Linked DNA regions of Homo sapiens: region 1 is linked to region 2. The links come from fine-mapping of genetic effects on gene expression. A gene starts in region 2. The other region holds a variant in brackets. All regions are shown on one strand. Distances are from middle to middle. Region 1 overlaps PALD1 (phosphatase domain containing paladin 1). Region 2 holds the start of PALD1 (phosphatase domain containing paladin 1).

Evidence for each region. PIP is the estimated chance that this variant, and not a neighbour inherited with it, causes the effect. A credible set is the group of variants that fine-mapping cannot tell apart.
Region 1: its variant is the best candidate, but not a certain one, in a credible set for the expression of PALD1 in skin (TwinsUK, PIP 0.68).

Annotation. Positions count from the first base shown.
Region 1 is chr10:70,527,876-70,533,239 of GRCh38, forward strand. PALD1 (phosphatase domain containing paladin 1) reads left to right here. Exons shown (of 20, transcript NM_014431.3): 3 at 1,354-1,456; 4 at 2,014-2,193; 5 at 3,415-3,579; 6 at 4,746-4,906; 7 at 5,120-5,195. Among named protein-coding and RNA genes, the nearest start is that of PALD1, 52 kb to the left of the region's middle. RefSeq lists an enhancer at 862-1,779. The variant C/T (reference allele first, on the strand shown) is at 2,147.
Region 2 is chr10:70,476,627-70,481,990 of GRCh38, forward strand. PALD1 (phosphatase domain containing paladin 1) reads left to right here and starts at 2,141. Exons shown (of 20, transcript NM_014431.3): 1 at 2,141-2,433. RefSeq lists silencers at 1,757-1,826, 2,027-2,476 and enhancers at 3,471-4,113, 3,757-3,936, 4,114-4,755.

The DNA.
Region 1 (5,364 bases), 51 kb after region 2:
ACCCACCAACCCACCATCCACGTCAGGCATATCTCCCAATGCCATCCCTCCCCCGTCCCCCCACCCCACAACAGGCCCTGGTATGTGATGCTTCCCTTCCCGTGTCCAAGTGTTCTCATTGTTCAGTTCCCACCTATGAGTGAGAACATGCGGTGTTTGGTTTTTTGTCCTTGCGATGGTTTGCTGAGAATGATGGTTTCCACCTTCATCCATGTCCCTACAAAGGACGTGAATTCATCATTTTTTATGGCTACATAGTATTCCATGGTGTATATGAAGGCACTTCTTTTGTCAAGAGGACCTAACATCAGATCATTAACTCTGGGAGGCTCTGTCATATTCATTGTTATCATCAGCACTGGAGCTGTTGTGTCTTGAGGGCACAGTAAATCTTGTTTGAGTGTTTGGACTTTTACCTGGTTTAGCATCTACAGAAATCTTGATTTTTATCTGTGGGTTTTGTTTGAAATAGCCCTGTGTGGAGGTAGAACTACAATTATATTAATAAATGCTTACTGTGCCCCAGGCACTGGGCTAAGCACTTACAATCATTAGCACATTTAATTCTCAGGACAGTCTTGGGGGTAGGAATTCCTGGAAATGAGCTCCTTGTCCAAAGCTATAGAGTTACCAAGCGGTGGGTGGAGTTGGGCTTCATGCCCCAAGCCTGCGTTCTAAACCACCTCACTGTGTGTGGAGTTAGCAGTGTAGGGACTGTCCCTCCAATACAATCTGATGGAGGGACCATCCAGTGATGTTGTCTTCTTCAGGGTACAGGCTAGGCCGCTGTCATAAAGTAACCCAGATAAGATGCCTTCCTCAGGACGAAGCTCATCTCTTACATGCAAGTCCACGAGGACATCCAGGCTGGGATGGCTGCTCCGTGATCATCCAGGCCCCTTCTCCCTCATTGCTCCAACATCATCAACATGTGGCTTCCGTCTTATGATCTAAGATGTTCTACCTCTGCCATCACTTCTGGATTTTAGCCAGGCAGAAGGGGAGAAGACAAAATAGAAGGCACCTCTTCTCTTTGGGAATGGCCTGGAATTTGCACGCACATCACTTTTCCTCACATCATTGGCCAGAACTTAAATCATGTGACCACAATGAGTTGCAAGGGAGGCTGGGAAATGTAGTCTTCAGCTGGGTGGCTCAGTCCTCAGTCACAGCCCTGGGGCTGTCGTGTTGAGGAAGAAGGGAAGAGTGGATATTGAGGGACAATGGGCAGTCTCTGCCACAAATCGTAGCCACAGGGGTTTTCCTGCGGTGGGCTCTGTGAGGGTGGAGCTGGCCTTGACCAAGGAGGTTGCTTGACTCAGTTTCCATTCTGCCCCCCCCCCCCCCCCCCAGGTACAACTGCAAGGAGGAGTTCCAGATCCATGATGAGCTGCTCAAGGCTCATTACACGTTGGGCCGGCTCTCGGACAACACCCCTGAGCACTACCTGGTGCAAGTGAGCTCAGGCCTTACCCTGCCAGCCCGCCTGCTGCCTCCCACCCCTATCTCTCATGAATTCCCTCCCTCACCTCCCTCTGGCCCTCCCCAACTTTCCCCGTCTCTCTGCCCATTTTCAGAACGGGCAGGGCCCTAGGATGGAGCTAGCACCGTGATCCTCTGGTTGATTCCTGGTGCCCCAGCTCTGCCTTCCTACAAAAGCCCCTTCCAGGGGAGCTCCTACCCTAGAGCCAGCTTTGCCTCTGGAGAGCCTCTCCCTGCTCTTTCCTCCAGGCCTGGCTCAGACGTCACCTCCCACATGAAGCCCTCTCTGATGTCCCCTCTGGAGGAGTTGTCTTTCCTTTTCCTACACTTTATGATACCCTTCCCCAGATCACAGAGAGTTATATATTTTGTCTGTTTTTTCCATGAACTGCAGGCAACTTGAGGGCAGGATCATGTTCTTTTTGCCCCTATTTCCCCCCTCCCTGTCCCCTGGAGCCCAGGACAGAGCTCCATCTGCAGAAAATACCCCTGAGCCATCTGAGTGACCTTCCTGTGGCTCTCCCCTGCCAGGGCCGCTACTTCCTGGTGCGGGATGTCACTGAGAAGATGGATGTGCTGGGCACCGTGGGAAGCTGTGGGGCCCCCAACTTCCGGCAGGTGCAGGGTGGGCTCACTGTGTTCGGCATGGGACAGCCCAGCCTCT[C/T]AGGGTTCAGGCGGGTCCTCCAGAAACTCCAGAAGGACGGACATAGGGTAAGTATGCCACTTCCCAGGCAGAAGCCAGGTCCCCAAAGCCAGGGAGAGGGGCACCTTGGAGGGGCAGCTTTAGAGGCGCTGGAGGGGCCTGCTGCATGCTGGAGAGGTGGGGTAGTGGCCTGGACCAGGCCCTGCCTGCCAGGATGGTCACTGCTGTTGGTCTGGTTGGGAAATTCTGGTGAATGTTGATTGCATGTCCTGAGTGGATGGCGGGGCACAAGGTCAGAAGCCTTCATAGACCCTACTTGGGAGCCTCAGAGGAAGCAGGGGGCGTGACCGGGTGACAGGAGGAGCCAGCTCATAATTTGACAGCTTGCTGAATGGTGATCACAGCTAACACTTAAGTCCTGATGTTAGCCCTGTGATGGAGTGGCAGTTTGTCTCCCATTTTGCAGAGGAGGAAACAGGCCCAGAGAAGCTAAGTGACTTGCTCAAGGTCACACAGCTCATGAGTGGTACCCCAAGACCCAAACCCAGGCAGCTGAATTCCCAAGTGCCTGCTTTCAAGGACTGTTCTTACCTGTCGGATGTTGAGGCAGGGTTTTGCGTGTCCCTAGGACACAGGCTGAGGGTCTGCTGCGATTGTAGGCTTCTTGAGTGCAGCTGCATCTGAATTGACCCCGGAGTTAAGGTGGAAAGGCTTTGAGTGAGACAGAATGGGGTGGGGGTGTGGGCTGTGTGCAGGTCCCATCTTCCCATCTTGATGATAAGTTCCTCAAGGGGACCATCTGCCCACACATTTCCCTCTGCCTGTATGGTGCTCAGTGAATGAATGATTGCGTGGTCATGGGGCATTCATTTCTTCAGCTGATGTTCATCAAACACCTGATTTATCCAGGACACCATGCTAGGACACCATGCTAGGAATTATGGGTACATGAAAATGACCAGGACATGATTTTGCCTACGAGGAACCTGTGGTCCATTAAGGGGGAAAAGATGCATTCATTGATAGTACAAAGCAGGAATTAACGCCAAGAGATTCATATGAAGGACTCTTGACCCTGACAGGAGGCAGGGGTCACTGCTGACTGGGAGGGTCACAGGGAGGTAGCATTTGGACTGAGCTTTGTTTCTTGGGTAGGATTCAGGTTGCAGGGATGGTGTGGGGTGCAGGAGGAAGGAACAGCTTGGGCAGAGGCCCTGAGGTGGGGCAGTGGTGCAGGTGTCTGTGCGGGATCATGATGATGGCTTCCTTCCCCCTCGGGCTCCTGGCAGGAGTGTGTCATCTTCTGTGTGCGGGAGGAACCTGTGCTTTTCCTGCGTGCAGATGAGGACTTTGTGTCCTACACACCTCGAGACAAGCAGAACCTTCATGAGAACCTCCAGGGCCTTGGACCCGGGGTCCGGGTGGAGAGCCTGGAGCTGGCCATCCGGAAAGAGGTGAGGACCAGTGCGGTGTGCGGGAGACCCCAGCCCACAGCCCAGCTTTGCAGATGCTCTTTTTGGGGCCAGCTCACCTGCTCTTACTGGCCCGTGTTCCCCCACTGTTGTGCCCTGCTTGGGTGAGTGGCTGGCTGCAAGGCTGACTCACGGGCAGCCAGAGGAAGGACTTCCTATTCTAGCTCTCTTTGCCTCTGCCCCTTTCCCACCCTGCTTGTCTCCTTGATGCTCAATGTCCTTATTTAGAAAGGGGTCTGGTGGGCCGGGTGCAGTGGCTTATACCTGTAATTCCAGCACTTTGGGAGGCCGAGGTGGGCAGGAGTTCAAGACCAGCCTGACCAACGTGGTGAAACTGTGTCTCTACTAAAAATACAAAAAATTAGCTGGACGTGCTTGCGCATGCCTATAATCCTAGCTACTCGGGAGGCTGAGGCAGGAGAATTGCTTGAACCTGGGAGGCGGAGGTTGCAGTGAGCCGAGATCACACTACTGCACTCCAGCCTGGGCTACAGAGTGAAACTCTTTCTAAAAAAAAAAAAAGAAAAAGAAAAAGAAAGGGTTCTAGGTGAGTGAAAAGAGCGCTAGACCAGAAGGACCAAGGCTGCAGTTCAACGCTTTGAGAGCCACGAGCCTCTGAGTCAGTTCCCTCAGTGGGTCTGTGGGCCTGTTTCAGTATCCTCTGTCCTCCTCCTCCTCCATAACACAGAGGCTTGTGGAGGCCTCTGAGGCAGCTGACATACCATGAAGGTGTGTGAATAGAGTGTGGGGTCCCAGTGTCCCCAGAAACTTCCAGGTCAGGAACCGAGGCCATGCCGGCGCCCAGCTCTTTGCCTCTCCCATCCCCTCCAGGCCTCCTGTGTGCTCTGCTCCCCTCGGCTCCAGCTCCCAGCTGACCACACCTCCCCCGTCCTGGCACTGGTGGCTTTGTGAATTCCTGCACCCACTGGGCAGAGCCCTCCTGCCTTGCCCCTGTGTAGGCACCCCGATTCCTTCAGAACTCCCAGGAATGGCATAGAGAGCACTTCTGGCTGTGTAGTTCCCTCATGGGGGGCAGAAGCCTGCCTGTGGCCTCTGCATGGTCTGGTCACTCCAGAGCTCAGCCAGGACACTCAGGGAGGGTCTTGAAGTTCAGGCCATGGCCCTCTGACCCCCACACCTCCCTCTAGATCCACGACTTTGCCCAGCTGAGCGAGAACACATACCATGTGTACCATAACACCGAGGACCTGTGGGGGGAGCCCCATGCTGTGGCCATCCATGGTGAGGACGACTTGCATGTGACGGAGGAGGTGTACAAGCGGCCCCTCTTCCTGCAGCCCACCTACAGGTACCACAGGGCCACCCCCAGCCCTGGCCATGGGTGCTCCAGGTCCTGCTCTCCAGCTGCAGCCTCAGTTTCACCATCTGCAGGTTGGGCGGAGTCCCCCACACCCATGTCTCCCACAGTGGGGCCCATTTCCAAACAGTGCCCGGGAATAGGGGGTGAGGGGGATTCCCAGAGTGGGTGCCTGCCTGATGGCTGCTCTCCCTCACCTGGCAGGTACCACCGCCTGCCCCTGCCCGAGCAAGGGAGTCCCCTGGAGGCCCAGTTGGACGCCTTTGTCAGTGTTCTCCGGGTAACTGGGGCACGGGCGCGCATGGGGGAGGAGTCTTGAGAGTCGTCCCCATGGAGGTGCTCAGGGTGGGCACAGCCTCTCGCCTTCCTCAGAGGAAGGCTTCATTCTGTGTTGTGTATGTGAGCATGTTAGGGTGGACGTGTGTTGGTGTCTGTCTCTGTATATGTCT
Region 2 (5,364 bases):
GTTAGATCCAGAAGGGTTGTGACTGCAGGCTGTCCTGAGAACATCTTTGTCCTGGGCTTTTCTGCTTGGTTCAACAAGAACACCTACTGTGTGTGTGGTGAGTACAAATGAATGTATGGAGACGTGCCAGGCACTGTGCTGTGGGCCAAAAGACAGGTCAGGCACAGGTAGGACATAGCTTTTGTTCTCTGGGAGCTAGAGAGGCACACCGCCGTGGATCCCAGCATCTGCTGGGCAGGGAGGGTGAGGGGAAGCAAAGTGTGTGTATTTGTATGTGTGTATTATGTGCATATGTGTATGTGCTATGTTTCTGTATGTATATATGTGTGCATGCATCCCTATAGGTATGCATGTTTATGTATATATTTGTATACATATATGTGCATGTATGTGTATACATGTGTGCATACACATGCACATGTATGTAAATGTATATTTTGCACCTGCTCACACACATGTTGCTCCTACCTTAGTCCTGGCCTAGAAGAGGACATTATCCTGGAATGCATCCTCAGGATGGCAGGCTTCAGCTGGGGAGTCTGACAGCTGGTGGGATGGGATATGGGGCTGTGGCAAGAGGAAGAAGGAAGGAAACTGTGGCCCAGGATGGAGTCCTAAAGTGTGCCACACACGATGCCTGGACATTACTTGCCCAGCTCACTGGCTTCTCAAATACCTCTTTGAAGGAGGATGAAGCCATCTTATGGATGTAGAAGTTGGGAATCTGAGAACTTACGTCACTTTTCCCAGACCACACAGCCAGTAAATTGTGAGCCACTTTGAGCCTAGCTCTGCTGAACTCTGAAGGTCAGGTCTGTTTCCCAAGGCCACTATGGGATTTTCTCTGCTGCTGTCCTTTTCACACACCTTGGGTGGCGCAGGAGCAGGTATGGAGCTGAGGACAAGTCTTCCCTGGGCCTGTTTCCTCATTTGTTAAAATAGGGATCAGAAAAGTACCGACCTTATAACTTCGCGAGGCACTTAAGAGCTAGGTGCTAGGGACATGGTGAGACCACCACAATGAGTGATTTCTCTTGTCTTCAGTTATTCTTAGGGGTCATGGGGAATGTGTTCCCCTCTCCCAGCCCAGCGCTCTCCAGCCTGACAGAGGTGGGGCCTACACTGCCTGCATCCTGGGGCAACCCCAGCTCGCCGAAATCCAGCTCCAGTCCTGAATGGGGGTGAGGCAGGTGGTAACAGGTGAGAAAAAAGGATTTCCCGAGTGTGGAGCAGCGAGAGGGAGGAAGTGACTCACCAACCACAACAAAGCCTATCTCTCCGCGAGGAAGCACAGCGAAGAGTGAACGCACGCACGTGGGTGCGTTCACCCACGTGCTCGCGGGGGCGTGCGGGGCCGTCGGAGTGGGCCGGGCTGGCTGCCGCCTAGTGCTAGTCCGCGCGTGTGGGGTGAGGAGTGGTGGGGGGGGCAGGCCTATGGTGCGGGTCACTGCCTGGAGCCGCATGATGGGTGGGGGCGGAGGGACCCCTCTCCATCCAAAGCTCTGCTCTGCTGTTCCCCTCTCACCTCTGGGGGCCGAGGGGCGCGTTTCCTTAGGACCCCGGGGCGTGGGAGAAGCCCCTGCTTGGGGGGACCGTCTGCTGTTTAGGGGCTCCCCTTCGACACGTGGGAGGCAAAAGTGCAGAGCGCACCATCATCCAGCTCCGGCCGCACTGCACAGCGAGGCCGGCCCGGAGCCCGGATGCTGGGCTCGGTCCCGCCGAGGCTCGGCCTGGCTGTAAAGCAGAGGGGGGCGAGGGAAGCCGGGCCAGCGGGTGTCGCGGGTAGCCGGCGTCCGGGACGGGGTGTGGCGCCCAGAGCGCTGCTGCCTCTCGCAGCCAGGAGGCTGGATGTCGGGTTTGGGTGTCTTCCAGAAGGAGCCGCACTAGCGACGAGGGAAGAGGAACTGGCTTCCCGGGCAGTCTCCCCCGCCCCAAACTTTTCCTCCTCGCGGAGGGTGGGCGGGCGGAGGGAGGAAGCGCAGCCGGGGAACGTGGCGCCCGCGTTCCTCCCGCCCGGGGGCTGCGGCTGGGCTGAGTGTGTCTTTAAATCTGAGCCCCCCGCCCCTCGCGGTGGGGCCGGGACTCGCGGTCCGGGCGGGGGCGGGCGCGGTGATTGGCGGCCGGGTCGGGTCCGCCCCTCGGCGTTGGGTAGCGGGGCGCTGGGGAGCAGCGCGGCGCGCACGGGCCGGGGCGCGCAGGTCCCGTCGCCGGTGAGCACGGGCTCCCTCTCGCGTGGCCTCGCCGGGTCCGCCTGGCCTGCCCACCTCCGGAGCCACCTCTGCCCCCGCATGGGCTGGCGAAGTTGGGAGGAGCGAGCTGGAGCCAGAGCGCGCGCCGGGCGCGCCCCGTCGCTGCCTGACTCGGCGCCCGCAGTTCGGGCGCAGCACGCCGGCCGCAGGAGCACGGATGCCCCCCGGAGCCGCGGGCTGGCAGGTACCGAAGTGTCCTGCCCTGGGGCTGGCGAGGGGAGGGCAAATCTGGAATCCCCCGGGCACCCCCCAGCCCGAGGCTGCTCCAGACACCAACTCCCCATCCTTTGGAGAGGTGAGGTCCTGGGCCTTCACCCCACACCCGCTCAGGATTGGTCCCTGGGAGGCAAGAGGGACTCACAGGGAGCAGTTGCTGGGTGGTTGTGTGTGTTGGACCCTGGGCTACCCCCTCTCCCGAGTTCCCTGGGTTTGGTGTAGGCATGGCCTGGTGACAATTCCACTTTTCATTGCCAGACCTGGGAGCATGGCCAGGAGCTAGGGTTTCCCGCGAAGTTAGGGGGAGATTGGGGAGAGGGAAGCCGCTTCATGACCGAGATGGGGTCCTGGGACTCATCTCTAGGGGGCGTGAGGCCCTCAGACCCAGGACGAGTCCAGAAGTCTCAGCGGGCACAGGCTTTGATTCTTGGCCCAGTCTGGCCCTCTTCCTCTGTAGGCCCGGGTCTCCAAGGAGAGTACGTTTTTCAGTTTCAGAGGGTTTTCCTGAAGGGGCAGTAACCTGTCAGAGAGAGAGTGGCCTATGGGAGACCCGGCTCCTGAAGGTGGCCGGGATGGTTGGAGCCCTTTCTCTTGGGTTGTCAGAGATGGGAGTAAAGCTTCATGGCCCAGGGAATCTTCTGGGCATCTCTACTCTCCCAGCCAGAGGCCCAGGAACCAACTCCTTGGCTTCTGGGTAGAGTAACCTGAACCCAGTGGCCGAGCACCTCTTAAATGCCAGGAAGGGCACTGGGCCGTGCCCCTGGAATGTGTGGATGGAGGAGGATTTGGAGGATTCTGTCCTCAGGAGGCTCAGCCCCTGGGGGCAAGACAGGACATAAACACACAAAGTTCCCCGATACAGGGTTTCAATACCAGTCCTGAACTGGTAATAGTGGAAAGCCAAGAGGCTACACACCATTAATTGCTATGTGAGTAATGTAGGCTGCGAGAGTGCCAGGGCAGCAGAGATCCAGTTCCATGCAAGCAAGCAAATGTGCTGAAATGTTCCAGCTCCATGCCCGCCCTTCCTTATTACCTTGCTCCAAGGGCAGGGAGCAGCAGGGGCGCTGAGGAGGTTCTCCTGCACTCATCCCCACCCACTCCCAGGTTTGTTTGTTTCCTGCTGGTGGATTTCTGAAATAACCCATTTGGTTTCTTGGCTTGGGCTGAGCACAGGACACTCCTAGTTGCCCTGTGGCTCCTGGGGTTTGGGGTCTAGAGCCAGCCTTGTAGGAGGTTCAGAGGTAAGCAGGAGGAAGTCCTCACTTCCTTTCTGAAGAGCCTCTGTCGCGGGGGGTTGGGGTAGGTCGGGAGGCTGGCAGGCACTGGGCCAGTTTCCTATGAGTGCAGACAGACCCCAGGTGGTGCATGCACCCCCCTCCCTTTCCTGGCCAGTGTTGGGGGTGGGCACAGTAGGGCCCAGGTGGCTTGAGGTGGGTGGTTCCTGGCACAGCTCTGACCTCACTTCTGTGAGGCTCTGCTGTATCTGGGGCCCTGCCCCCTCCCTCATTGTCCCTGGCAGGTTTCTGTTTTTCTGGAGCACTTCGTGGAGGTGGCAGTGTGCTCATGCTCGTGGCCTTGGGTGCAGTTCTGGGAGTGGGAGTTGCTGAGCTCACCCGAAGCCCTTGGCTGGCACTGTGAGAACTTGTGTGAACACACTTGCCTGCCTCCAAACAGGTGGTGCACAGACCTGGGTTACCCAGGCACCTGTGGGGGATGCCCCGTGTGGGCAGAGACGTGAGTGCGTGTGTGTGCTCAGGTTTACATCTGTGTGGGCAGAGACGTAGAGGAGCTGGATACATATATACTTGAGGACAGACACAGGAGGATGGTGGGGGTGAGCAAACAACCCAGGGACACAGACATGTGCGGGGACAGACATACATGAACCCATCAGCGTGGGCCACGTATGGGCTGCAGACACGTACATAGAAATACACCATTGCTGGGATCTGAATCTCCCCACATGGGAGGCAGACATGTAAGTGGACAGACATATAGGTAGACCCAGCAGAGCACAGACGGGGATGGGAACCGACATTCCCAGACAAAAGACTCGGAGCCACAGGGAAGCCGCTCAAGTGCCTGGGCAGAATGGAGTTGGCTGTGAGCTCCTGGGGGGCACAGACACATATGCTTGCCAGAGCCAGCGGACAGCAGAGGCCAGGAACCAGACACAGGTGGGTTCTGAGAGGTAGGCCGAGGCGTGCATTGCCTGGTTATCACTGTTTCCCTGCGTGGCACAGTGCCCGGAAGTTGTCCTGTTTGGGGTGGTGATGGTACAGGTGCTCTGTGGTGGAGCTTATTTCTAGACTCTCACTTTGGGGTTTGAGGACCCCAAAAAGCTCAGTCTCCTGTGTTTTACTCAGAGTCATTTGGCCTCTCCACCTCTGCATTACAAGGCTGTGTTTGTGCCTTAAGTGCCAGCAGGTGCTCTTTGAATTTTGATTCTCATCTTCCCTGGATCTCCAGAGGCTTCCTGAAGTGAGGCTGTGTGGCCTGGGTAGGGTGCTCCAACTGTTCCTTTCCTACCAGAATAGGAGAGGAACTGTCTGGGGATTCTCCTTCTGAACCCAAGCCTGCGGGTCTTTGACAGGGATCCCCCAGGTGAGAGAGAGAGCACACATGTAGCTGCGTCTGTGATGAGAGCCACTGCCCTCTGGGGCGGGCTCCTTCTCTGCTAAGCCGTGGGCTTGCACAGGGAAGGGGTCCCCCACCTGGCTATGCTCAGGTCTCCTCTGCCCAACCTGGCACCTGAGAGACAGCCCAGATTCTAGATATGCTTTGATACTAATGCACCATGCAACCTCCAGCAAGTCAATTAATGTATTGGTTTCCTCATCTTTAGAGTGGGGTCAGTAACCTCTACCTCCTTGTGGGTTCAGTGGGAGAAAATCAG